Linked DNA regions of Homo sapiens: region 1 is linked to region 2. Evidence: fine-mapped expression QTL. A gene starts in region 2. The other region holds a variant in brackets. All regions are shown on one strand. Distances are between the middles of the regions. Region 1 overlaps NCKAP5L (NCK associated protein 5 like). Region 2 holds the start of NCKAP5L (NCK associated protein 5 like).

Region 1 (5,339 bases), 39 kb after region 2:
AGACCTGTCCTGATGGTGAGTGTCCAGGTGGGAGGGTGGGATGCCCCTGGGCATCCTGGAGCTGCCCAGGCAGCTCCATCCACCTTCCCTTTGTTCCTGGACAGATCCCTGTGAAGACCCAGGCCCCACCCCTCCTGTCCAGCTGGCCAAGAACTGGACCTTCCCCAATACTAGGGCAGCCGGCAGCTCCTCGGACCCTCTCATGTGCCCACCCCGACAACTGGAGGGGCTGCCCAGGACCCCCATGGTGAGAATTGCAGCAGAGGAAAGGGAAAGGACTCGGGAGCAGGAGGGAGTGATGTGGGGAGACCAGTTTCTCCAGTAAGGTACGGCCTGTGTGTCGCACAGTCTCAGTGCTGCACCCTCTGGGAGGAGGACCCCTGGGATGCCCTGTGAGCGGCCCTCCCCACTGCCCTCCTTGCACTTCTCTCGTGGGGAAAGGTTTCTGTCCCTCCCCAGAACCTTGTAGGACTGTTCTCAGTTGTACCTCCAGCCTGTTTCCTCTGAAGTATACCCCACCTTGGGCCCCCTCTGGAGCAGCCCCCCATCAGGTGCACAGACGCCCCTCAGAGCTCAGTGCCTCTGAGGCTGGGCCGAAAGGTGGAGAGGAGCTTCCTCCCGAGCTGCCCCTCCTTTCCCAGGCCCTGCCCGTGGACCGGAAGCGAAGCCAGGAGCCCAGCCGCCCGTCCCCTACGCCCCAGGGCCCACCTTTCGGGGGTAGCCGCACCCCCAGCACTTCGGACATGGCCGAGGAAGGCAGAGTGGCCAGCGGGGGCCCCCCAGGGCTGGAGACCTCGGAGTCTCTCAGTGACTCACTCTACGACTCGCTGTCCTCTTGTGGGAGTCAGGGCTGAGGGGCTGCGCCACGCCACGGCCCCGCTGGAGCTGGGGACCACAGACTGGACCGGCTCTCTTCATGCCCAGCCCCCGGAGACGGGGACCCCTCCCTGAAGGGACCAAGGAGGCAGGTGGATAAGAAGGTGAAAAGGGGGTCCCTGGCACACCCCACCACCCACTGCTTCGGCGGATGAGATGACCGTGCTCAGCTCAGGGAGAGACCCCGCCCTTGGTCCCTTCTCTCACCCAGAGTAAGGCTCTTCCTGGAAGGGACTGGGGGTTAAAGGCCACTGTGTCGCAGCCCTCCAGTCCCTACTTCAGGCTGAGCCATCTTGTGGTGCTGGGCTTCCTGCCCACCAGCCGTGCCATCTCTGCCCAACCCGGCTGCTCCTCTGCCCCGAAGCCCTCGCGAGGCCCTCCTGGAGGCCCCCGTGCTGGTGGAGTTTGGGGGCCAGGGGGACAAGTTGCCTTCTCTCTCTGCCCTGGTCCTCCCTGCTGTCTGGATGGTGCTGCCCTCCTCTGCCCCATGCCTTTGGGGTCTGTTCGTCCGTCTTTTTTGTTGTTGTTTTTATATATTGAAGCGCCTGGCCCAGCCCCCAGCCCCCAGCCCCGCACTGCGGTTAATTTATGTGTTGTTTAAAATGCGGCTGCTCTGCTTCCTGCCTCTGCTTCTGCCGTATCCCTAATAAAATGTGGAGGCCCCCTCCCTGCCCCTGAGTCGGCTTGTTGTGTGGGAGGACTCAGGCAGGCCAGGTCGGGGGACACTGCATGGGTGCCAGGTTGAGGGACCCCAGGCCCCCTTGTGACACAGCCCCCTCACCAGGGCAACTGGCTGGAGTCATCCCAGAAGGTAACTGAGGGTTGGGAGAGTAGGGCCTGCTTAGGCCCGGAAGGGTATCTGGGCTCGGAGAGATTCTCCTGGGCCAGGGCTTGGGCACGGCGCGAGGCTGGGTGGCCCCTTGGAGAGGGAGCTGGGGAAGATGGCTGTGGACATGCACTCAGGCCCCACGTGTCCCAGGCTGGGGGGGACATGCAGACTCTGAGTAGAGTTGCATCTCTTCTCCAGACCTTGGTTTTCCTCCTCTATAGAAGATTAGAAAGTTAATCCAGACGAGCTGGTCCCATCAGCCAGACTTTCTTCTCAGCATTCTCCTCTTCCTACCCCTTCCCCAATTCTCTTCCTACCCCTTCTTAGTTAATATCATCATTGAAGAAATTAACAAGACGGAGAGTGTCAAGTCAGATGTCTGGGTTTTTTTTTTTTTTTTTAAGTCAGTATCCCATTTTCTTACCTCTTGTCTTCTACTTCCAGATTCCTATCCCACTGTCCTATCTTTTCTGCTTTT[A/G]TGGGCTTAAGCATAATATTACCAAGCTGTAAATCTGCTTCTTGCCAGGTGGGCTTCAAGAGGTCTACCTCCTTCCCACTTTTTATTTCTTGGTTTTTCAAGCCCTCTTCTCTGCTTGAACTTGGTAGATTACCTCATTTCCTAGTTAGAACAGAATTGTTTGCCTGCAGGATATTTCTCCTATTTCCTTCTGGGGAAGGAGTTTGGCATAGTAGGTTTGATGCAGGACTCCACCTCTTTCAAGCTGAGACCAGAGGGTCCATCCGCATTCTTACCACCAGGGTCTGATCCATCTGCCTAGGCTTTATTCTCTGGTGTTTGCAAATACAAGGCGTCACCTTGGTTTCCAGGGCAATGTGGGCTGACTGACCAAGGCAGGGCAGGTGGCATCAGTCACACCTGACGCCTGGAGGCAGCCATTGCCTACCAACTGTTCCATGGTGGGAAACTTCCTAAATCCCCCAGCATTCTGCTAAGAGACCCTGGATCCAGATGAGCCACCCCACAGCCTACATAATTGTGTGCCCTTCACACAGACCCAGTATTTTATCTAAAATGATTCTGTGGAGGAGGACATGCAGTTGAGTTTAAAGACACTCCTGGGGAATCAATTTCTTGCACTTCAAAGAAAGGTTAGGCTAAAAGACCATTTGATCCTTACTAAGGCAGAACACTTCATATCTCAGTTTGCAACATCTTCCTGCAGAATTCAGGTAAATTCACTGTTTTCTCCAAGAATAATAGGTGAATGTTTGCCTTTGCAATGTGCAAGACCCATTCTGCTGGATTTTCCAAACAAAGGAAGACAAAACTGCCAGGCCACCTCCCCCATCCCCCAAAATGGCATCAAGGCATCAGCAAAAGATTATGACAAGGCTTCAGGTTCAACTTCACTGGGCACTTTGCCTTTTGCAGGAAATGTCCCAAAAACATTAACTCAAGTTTTCTCTGGGTAGCCAGTGGGTTTTTTTTTCCTTCTTTACCCTTTTGTAGATTTCTACAAATAGTGTGCTTTGTTTTCTTTAAAAAAAAAATTTTTTTTTGTAGAGATGGGGTCTCACTATGTTGCCCAGGCTGGTCTCAAACTCCTGGCCTCTCCAAGTTCTGGGATTACAGGTGTGAGCCACTGCATCCAACCTGTTTTGTTTTCTTTATCAAAAAAAGTTTTAAGGCCGGGTGCAGTGGCTCACGCCTGTAATCCCAGCACTTTGGGAGGCTGAGGTGGGTGGATCACGAGGTCAGGAGATCTATACCATCCTGGTTAACACAGTGAAACCCTGTCTCTACTAAAAATACAAAAAACTAGCCAGGCGTGGTGGCACGCGCCTGTAGTCCCAGTTACTCCAGAGGCTGAGGCAGAAGAATTGCTTGAACCCAGGAGGCGGGCCTTGCAGTGAGCCAAGATCGCGCCACTGCACTCCAGCCTGGGCGACAGAGTGAGACTCCGTCTCAAAAAAAAAAAAGTTAAAAAAAATTTTTTCCCGAGACTATAGAAATGCTCACCTGTATTAACTTCAAATTCATGTGGCCTTAAGTAATTTATTTATATGCTTGAACTAACTCACACAGGATTACAGAATGAGGGTATATATCTAGAGTTTGCTGCAGAGAATAATTGTTTCTCGTTTAAAACTTTTTTTTTTATTTTTTTGAGACGGAGTCTCTCTCTGTCACCCAGGCAGGACTACAGGCTCCTGCCACCACACCCGGCTAATTTTTTGTATTTTTAGCAGAGGTGGAGTTTCACCATCTTAGCCAGAATGGTCTCAATCTCCTGACCTCGTGATCTGCCCACCTCGGCCTCCCAAAGTGCTGGGATTACAGGTGTGAACCACCGTGTCTGGCCCCTTAAAAGGTTTTTAATTGTTAAAGGAATAGAAATTATAGAAGTATATGTTCCCCAGGCACAATGGCTCATGCATGTAATCCCAGCACTTTAGGAGGCCGAGGCGGGTGGATCACCTGAGGTCAGGAGTTCGAAACCAGCCTGACCAACATGGAGAAACCCCATCTCTACTAAAAAATACAAAATTAGCCAGGCGTGATGGCACATGCCTGGAATCCCAGCTATTCGGGAGGCTGAAGCAGGAGAATCACTTGAACTTGGGAGGCGGAGGTTGCAGTGAGCCAAGATTGCACCATTGCCCTCCAGACTGGGCAACAAAAGCAAAACTCTGTCTCAAAAAAAAAAAAAAGAGTATATGTTCATGGTTTTTAAAAAAAGGAATTGAAATTGAATGTTATAACTAATTATCAGGGAAATGCAAATCAAAACTGCAATGAAATACCACCTCACTCTAGTTAGAATAGCTCTTATCAAAAAGACAAAAGAAAACAAGTGTTGGTGAGGATGTAGAGAAAATAGAACCCTTACACACTGTTGGTGGGAATGTAAATTAGTACCTCTATTAAGGAAAACTGTGGAGGTTCCTCAAAAAATTAAAAGTAGAGCACTATATGATCCAGCAATCCCACCAGTGGGTAAATGGAGGTATCTGTACTCCCTTGTTTATTGCAGCACTGTTCACAATAGCCAAGAATTGAAGTCAACCTAAATGCCAGCAATGGATGAATGGATAAAATGTGGTATATCTACACAGTGGAATACTATTCAGCAATGAAAAAGAATGATATCCTGTCATTTGAAACAAATTATTTGAACCTGAACATTATGTTAAGTGAAATAAGTCAGACACAAAAAGACAAATACCACATGTTCTCACTGATACGTGGAATCTTAAAAAAAAGAAAAAGAAAAAGCCGATCTTATGGAAGTATAGAGCAGATCAGTGGTTACCAGAGGTTGCAGAGCCAGTGGAGGAGAGGAGGTTGAGGAGAGGTTGTTTGGAGGTACAAAACTAGATAGGAGGAATAAGTTCTGGTGTTCTATTGCACAGTAGAGTGACAATGGTTAACAAGAAAGTATGGTATATTATTAACAAAATAGAAGAGAGGGTTTTGAATGTTCTCACCACAAAAAAATTACAAATTCATAATGAGATGGCTGTCCTAAATACCCTGATTTGATCACTATACAATGTATCCATGTATGCAAAAACATCACATTGTACCCCATAAGTACATACAATTATAAAGTGTCAGAAATTGAAAAGAGGCCGGTGAGGTGGCTCACGCCTGTAATCCTAGCACTTTGGG
Region 2 (5,369 bases):
AAGCATAGAGAATCTGCCAAAATCTGAATGCTGAAATTATCAAGTGCACAATAGCCTTTAAGGAAGGAGAGAGCCAGGTACTTGCTCTGACAAATACAGATGTTCTGGCTGTTTATTAAACAAGAGTAAACATCTAAATGAAAAGTAAAATATTGGCTGGGCACAGAGGCTCACACCTGTAATCCCAGCACTTTGGGAGGCTGAAGTGGGCAGATCACTTGAGGTCAGGAGTTCAAGACCAGCCTGGACAACTTGGTGAAACCTCATTTCTACTAAAAATACAAAAATTAGCTGGGTGTGGTGGCGCACGCCTGTAATCTCAGCTACTTGGGAGGGTGAGGCAGGAGAATTGCTTGAGAATTGCAAGAGGCAAGAGAATTGCCTCTTGGAAGGCAGACCTTGCAGTGAGCCGAGATTGTGCTGCTACACTCCAGTCTGGGTGACAGAGCAAGACTCTGTCTCAAAAAAAAAAAAAAAAAAAAGGAAAGTAAATTATCATCTTGATGTTCTGTTTACTTCCAATAATTCAGTTATTTGGAAACATCCAAAAGTAGTTAGAAATGCCTGGCAGACTTTTAAGGTTTTCTACCTCAAGGCAGAATTAGGAATACAAGGCAATATTAGGAATACAACAGGTACATGGAGTTTTATTGGACTTTCAAGCCCTTTGAGGAAAGGACCATGTCTACTTTTTGTTGTAATCCCAGAACTAGCCCACTGATCCCTATTCAATGTTAGATGATTGAATAAGAATTCACAATGCTGTAGGCTTCCGAAGATGCCACTATCATCAAGAAATAAGGTGAAAAGGAGAAATGAAAACATGTCTATGAAAATATTTGCACCAGAATGTTAATAGCAGCCATATTCATCATAACCCCAACTGGAAATACCCAAATATCCATCAATTGAAGAATGGATAAACACATTGTGATATATTCATGCAATGGAATAATACTCAGCAATAAAAAAGAACAGATTACTGATACACATGGATGGATCTCAAAAACATTACTAAGCTAAAGGATACAGACACAAGTACATACTGTAAAGCTCCATATATGTGAAATACAAATGCAGACAAATCTATGGTGCTATAATTCAGGAAGTTGCCAGGGGAGGGTGGTGGTGGGTGTGGGGTGATCAACTATAAAGGGGCATGAGGGAACTTTATAGGGTGGTGGTTCAGTATCTTGTTTTGGGTGTTAATTACATAGGTGTATATTTTGAAATTCACCAAACAAAGCACCTAAGATGTGTGCATTTTATTGCACGTTAAGAATAATTTAAGGGCCGGGCATGGTGGCTCACATCTATAATCCTAGCACTTTGGGAGGCCGAGGTGGGCAAATCACCTGAGGTCAGGAGTTCGAGACCAGCCTGGCCAACATGGTGAAGCCTCCGTCTCTACTAAAAATACAAAAATTAGCCAGGTGTGGTGGTGCACTCTTATAATACCAGCTACTTGGGAGGCTGAGGCAGGAGAATCACCTGAAATCAGGAGGTGGAGGTTGCAGTGAGCAGAGATTGTGCCACTGCACTCCGTCCAACCTGGGACAGAGTGAGACTCCATCTCAGAGAAAAGAAAAGAATAAAATATTTTTTAAGCAAAAAAATGAGAAAGCTGGTGGGGGTACCCATCAAGACATCTTTTAGGTTCCAGTAATAGCTGTCCTTGGGCACTCTTTTCATCAAACTACCTCTATGCTCAAGAACCCAAAATGACTTCTTTATCTTATGTCTTGTCACATCCATATCCTTATTCTGCTCTCCTCCATAAGAAACCTCCTCCATTAATTTCTCCCACTTCCCAACGTACCACGGTGATCTGCTCACGGTCCCACGCAGATAATTTGCTCTTTCCTATCTGAATCTCCTTGTGGCCTTTACCCTGCCTGGACCCTACTCAAGCTCTCTCTGCCCTTCAAATTCCGTATTTAAATAAACCTCCTTCAGAAAAGAACTCTTAATCCTAGCCAATCTGAGCACCCTAACTTGCCTTACTTTTTATGTTCCTTTATTGGACTAATATGATACTCTAAGCTGCATCCTTTGTATACTCGCAACAAAAGAAATTTTAATGAAGTAGGCGGAGACTGTACCTAGGGATTCCTTCGTATTTCCCTGCAGAACCCAGGTGAGAACCTACATTTCTGGGGCAGTCACTACAATGCAGGCTGTGAGGGTTATACGGTATTTAGGCAAGGGCAAATAGGTGTTTAATTAAGGACTAATGGGAATGATATTGAAGCTCTGAGGCTCTGCAGGGGCCTGGATGGGCTGTTTGCTTTTCCTCATCCTCACCGAGATAGCAAGTGGTTGAGAACAAGGTTGCATCCTTTTTCTGCCCAGCCTTCCCCGCAAACCAGTGAGGAAACGACCAGCACTGCCGTCTGATGAGAGGAGCCTGTTGCTGTAACTGTTTTCCAGATTACTGGGGGGACGACCCCATCCTGGAGAAGGAAGAGAGAGGCGGGAGCATTTAAGGCCAAAGAGGCACTCAAGCCTTTCCCCCATGGATTTACACCCAACACGTATGCAGAAAAGCAAATTACAAACACCGACGCTCACAACCACACATACACGTGCACGCCCAGCCCCACAGAAGCAAACGCGCATGCCTGTGGGCCCGCGCGCACCTACTTAGTTTTCTCTGTTCTAGACGCCCTCATTCCACCCCCGCTCGGCCCAGCCCGGCGTCCTCTACCCAGGCACGGCTGAGGTTTACCAAGCCCGGCCCGGCCTGGAGAAAGTGTTTCTATAAGGGGGAAGGGAGGTCCTTCCCACCAAAGCGGAAGCGGCGCGCGCCGGCCGGGCAGACTTAGCTCGCGTCCTGGGAACATCTGGAGGGGGCTGGGAGGGGCGCGCATCCAGGCTGAACGTGGATTGGCTGCTAGGGAGGAGGGAGGCGGGGTCAGGGCCAGGGGCGGGGCTCCCCGGCCCCTTTAAAGCCTTGACATCAGGAGGCGGCTCCGGCACCCCCCTTTCTCTGCCCCCCGCCCCCAAGCCGCGGCCATGGACCTGGCGGATCCGGCCTGCCCTGGCCCAGCTCAACACCTGATTTCGGTGAGTTCTGGGTCTACTTGGGATTGAAAGGGCGGCGAGTGCGGGGGGGCGATCTGTAGCTCCGGGCCGGGGGGAGTGGGGTGTGGAGGGTAAGGCTCTCGTGGCAGTACAGAGTCGGAGAGGGCGTCGCGGCTTCCTGCCCAAACCCTGCTGCCCGCCCCTCCGTCCCTCCCTCCAGCCGCACCCTCCTCGGGGGTCCGGCTGCGACTCTGTGCACCCCCACCCCACCCCCTCCCGCCCCCCGCGCCATCCTCGCGCACACTCCGTGGCCCCGGAAGGGAAACTTTCGGGAGTGGGGGATGTTCCGGGGGCCGGGCTCCCCTCCCTCTTTGAAAGCACTGACCTTGCCCCAGCTGCTCACCCCACCCAACCCGCATCCCACCGTCCGGGTGCCGCTTAGCGGTGCCGGGTTATTGCGGGGGGAGGGGCTCTCTCCCCAAAGCGCAGGCGCGGAGACGAGCCTGGGGCTCCCTTTCGCACTCCTTCCCATTCCCCGTGGCCTGGGGCGGTAGGGCCTGGGGAAGGCGGGGAGAGGCGGAAAGACCGGGTCTCCTAGAGAACAGCCCCTTCAAAGGCTTTGAGGGGCTGCGGGAAGGAGGAAGGACCTGGTGGGCTGCACGCTGAAGAGAAGCTAAGGGAGGGAGAAGGGTTGGTTGGGCAGGGAGCAGGGACAGGGCAGCGTCTGCAGAAAAGGCCCTCTGGGTGCTGGCTGCGGTGCCAGAAGAATGCAGAGAATTCATCTGTGCCCGACGCTTCCCTGGCTTAGCCCAACTAAGAAAGCGGCTGCCCGGATCCTAGCTCCCCTCTCCCTGTCCTGGGCCCAAGGTCCCGCGTTATCTCCAGTCCTGGCACGGCCCCAAGGGCACAGAGGGCCCTCACCTCCCACAGGCCTGGTTTTCCAGGCATCCCAGGGCTGGATCAGCTGAGTCCACTTAGTCTGTCCAGCTGCTACTTCTTAAAGGCCTGCCTTGCTGAGGAGCTGGGGGTCTTGGGCTAAGGAGTTCTCTGGCTGTAGAGGCAATCCCTCCCTCCCACTTCTCCGCGTCTGTCATGGGTCCTCCTTCTTAAGCACAATGGTCAGCCAGAGGAAGTGGCCCGGGCAGGGGTGGCCTGGGGAGCAGTAGAAAGAGTGTCAATGCCTTACCGTTTTGTGGTCAGTACTTTCGGGGAAAATGAACATAGCCCATTTGCCTTGTTGCAGACCCTCCCTTGCAGACATTACGCCATCTGGCTCTCTGAGACTCCTTGTGTGATAGGAAAATTCACTTCTCAAATTGGTCCCCCCATCTTCCTAAAAACAACCTGGGATTAGTGGGTTTCCTATCCCAAAGAAACCGTGTGTATTCCTTTCCGGGGAGATATTCCCATGTTCAAGCTTGTTTTCAAAGTCTATGGTCTGTGCATGAGGTGGCTTTGTCCCTCCAGCATCTTTCTCCAGCTCTGGCCCTCACGAAGAGAGTGAGGACCTGGAGGGGCAGGTGCTGTGGTTGGCAGGGAAGAAGGATCTTCATGATAGGCCGGTGAAGACCTAAGTGTTTGGGGAGCAAGCGGGTATCAATAAAGACAGAGTCAGAAGCTCTGGTCCCTACTTTTCCTAGCTTGCTGTATGACCTTGGCCAAGACAGTTTGCTCTCTGGGGCTCAGTTTCCCCATCTTTAAATGTCAGTAGTTGGACTAGATAGCTCTAATATTCCCTTCCACTTTTTGACATTGAATGGTTCCACTGATGGGTGAATCTATAGGGGAGAAAGGTCCTCTGGCAGAATGGTTCCATTTAGAGGGAGCTAAAGTGTTGGGTGTGCTTTAAATTGCAATTAGTTAGGATTAGAACCCTGGGTAGAGAGAACAGATTCCCTTATTCTAAGCCTGAGAGTAGACCTTGTCCCACACACCCCTGGTGCCTTGGGATATGAACTCCTGCTCCTGCTGGCTTGGGTTTGGCCCACCCATCACGCCTGTGGTGAGACATCCTGGCCCTTTGAAGAGGAGCTGAGAGAGGAGGAGGCAGCCAAGGGCCAGCAGGGTAAGCAGATTCCCAGGAGACAGTTTACGTCTCAGCTGTTGGGACTTGTTTTAGGATCTGGGCCAGGGAGCACAACATACTCACCCACCCGCCCTCTTATAGGAGGAGGGCAAGGAGGGCCCCACTGCTTTTGCCCATCCCACCCCCAGCCCTGCCCACCTCACTGCTGTACTCACACCCCCAGGTCCCAGGCAAGGGGCTAAGGATTCTTCCCCACCGCCCTCATCCAGCCCAGCCAGCCTCCCAGGCCCTGCTATACCAGCCAGTGGCAGCAGTGAGG

The links. PIP is the estimated chance that this variant, and not a neighbour inherited with it, causes the effect.
Region 1: its variant is fine-mapped to the expression of NCKAP5L in whole blood (TOPMed, PIP 0.97).

Annotation. Positions count from the first base shown.
Region 1 is chr12:49,787,354-49,792,692 of GRCh38, reverse strand. NCKAP5L (NCK associated protein 5 like) reads left to right here. Exons shown (of 13, transcript NM_001037806.4): 11 at 1-15; 12 at 105-247; 13 at 642-1,541. The coding sequence ends at 854. Among named protein-coding and RNA genes, the nearest start is that of NCKAP5L, 38 kb to the left of the region's middle. RefSeq lists an enhancer at 1,104-1,946. The variant A/G (reference allele first, on the strand shown) is at 2,184.
Region 2 is chr12:49,826,019-49,831,387 of GRCh38, reverse strand. It overlaps NCKAP5L (NCK associated protein 5 like), which reads left to right and starts at 2,975. Exons shown (of 13, transcript NM_001037806.4): 1 at 2,975-3,066. It overlaps BCDIN3D-AS1 (BCDIN3D antisense RNA 1), which reads right to left and starts at 2,845. Exons shown (of 3, transcript NR_027501.1): 1 at 2,644-2,845; 2 at 2,305-2,453. RefSeq lists enhancers at 1,944-2,522, 2,523-3,101, 3,517-3,566, 4,710-5,369 and a silencer at 2,847-3,256.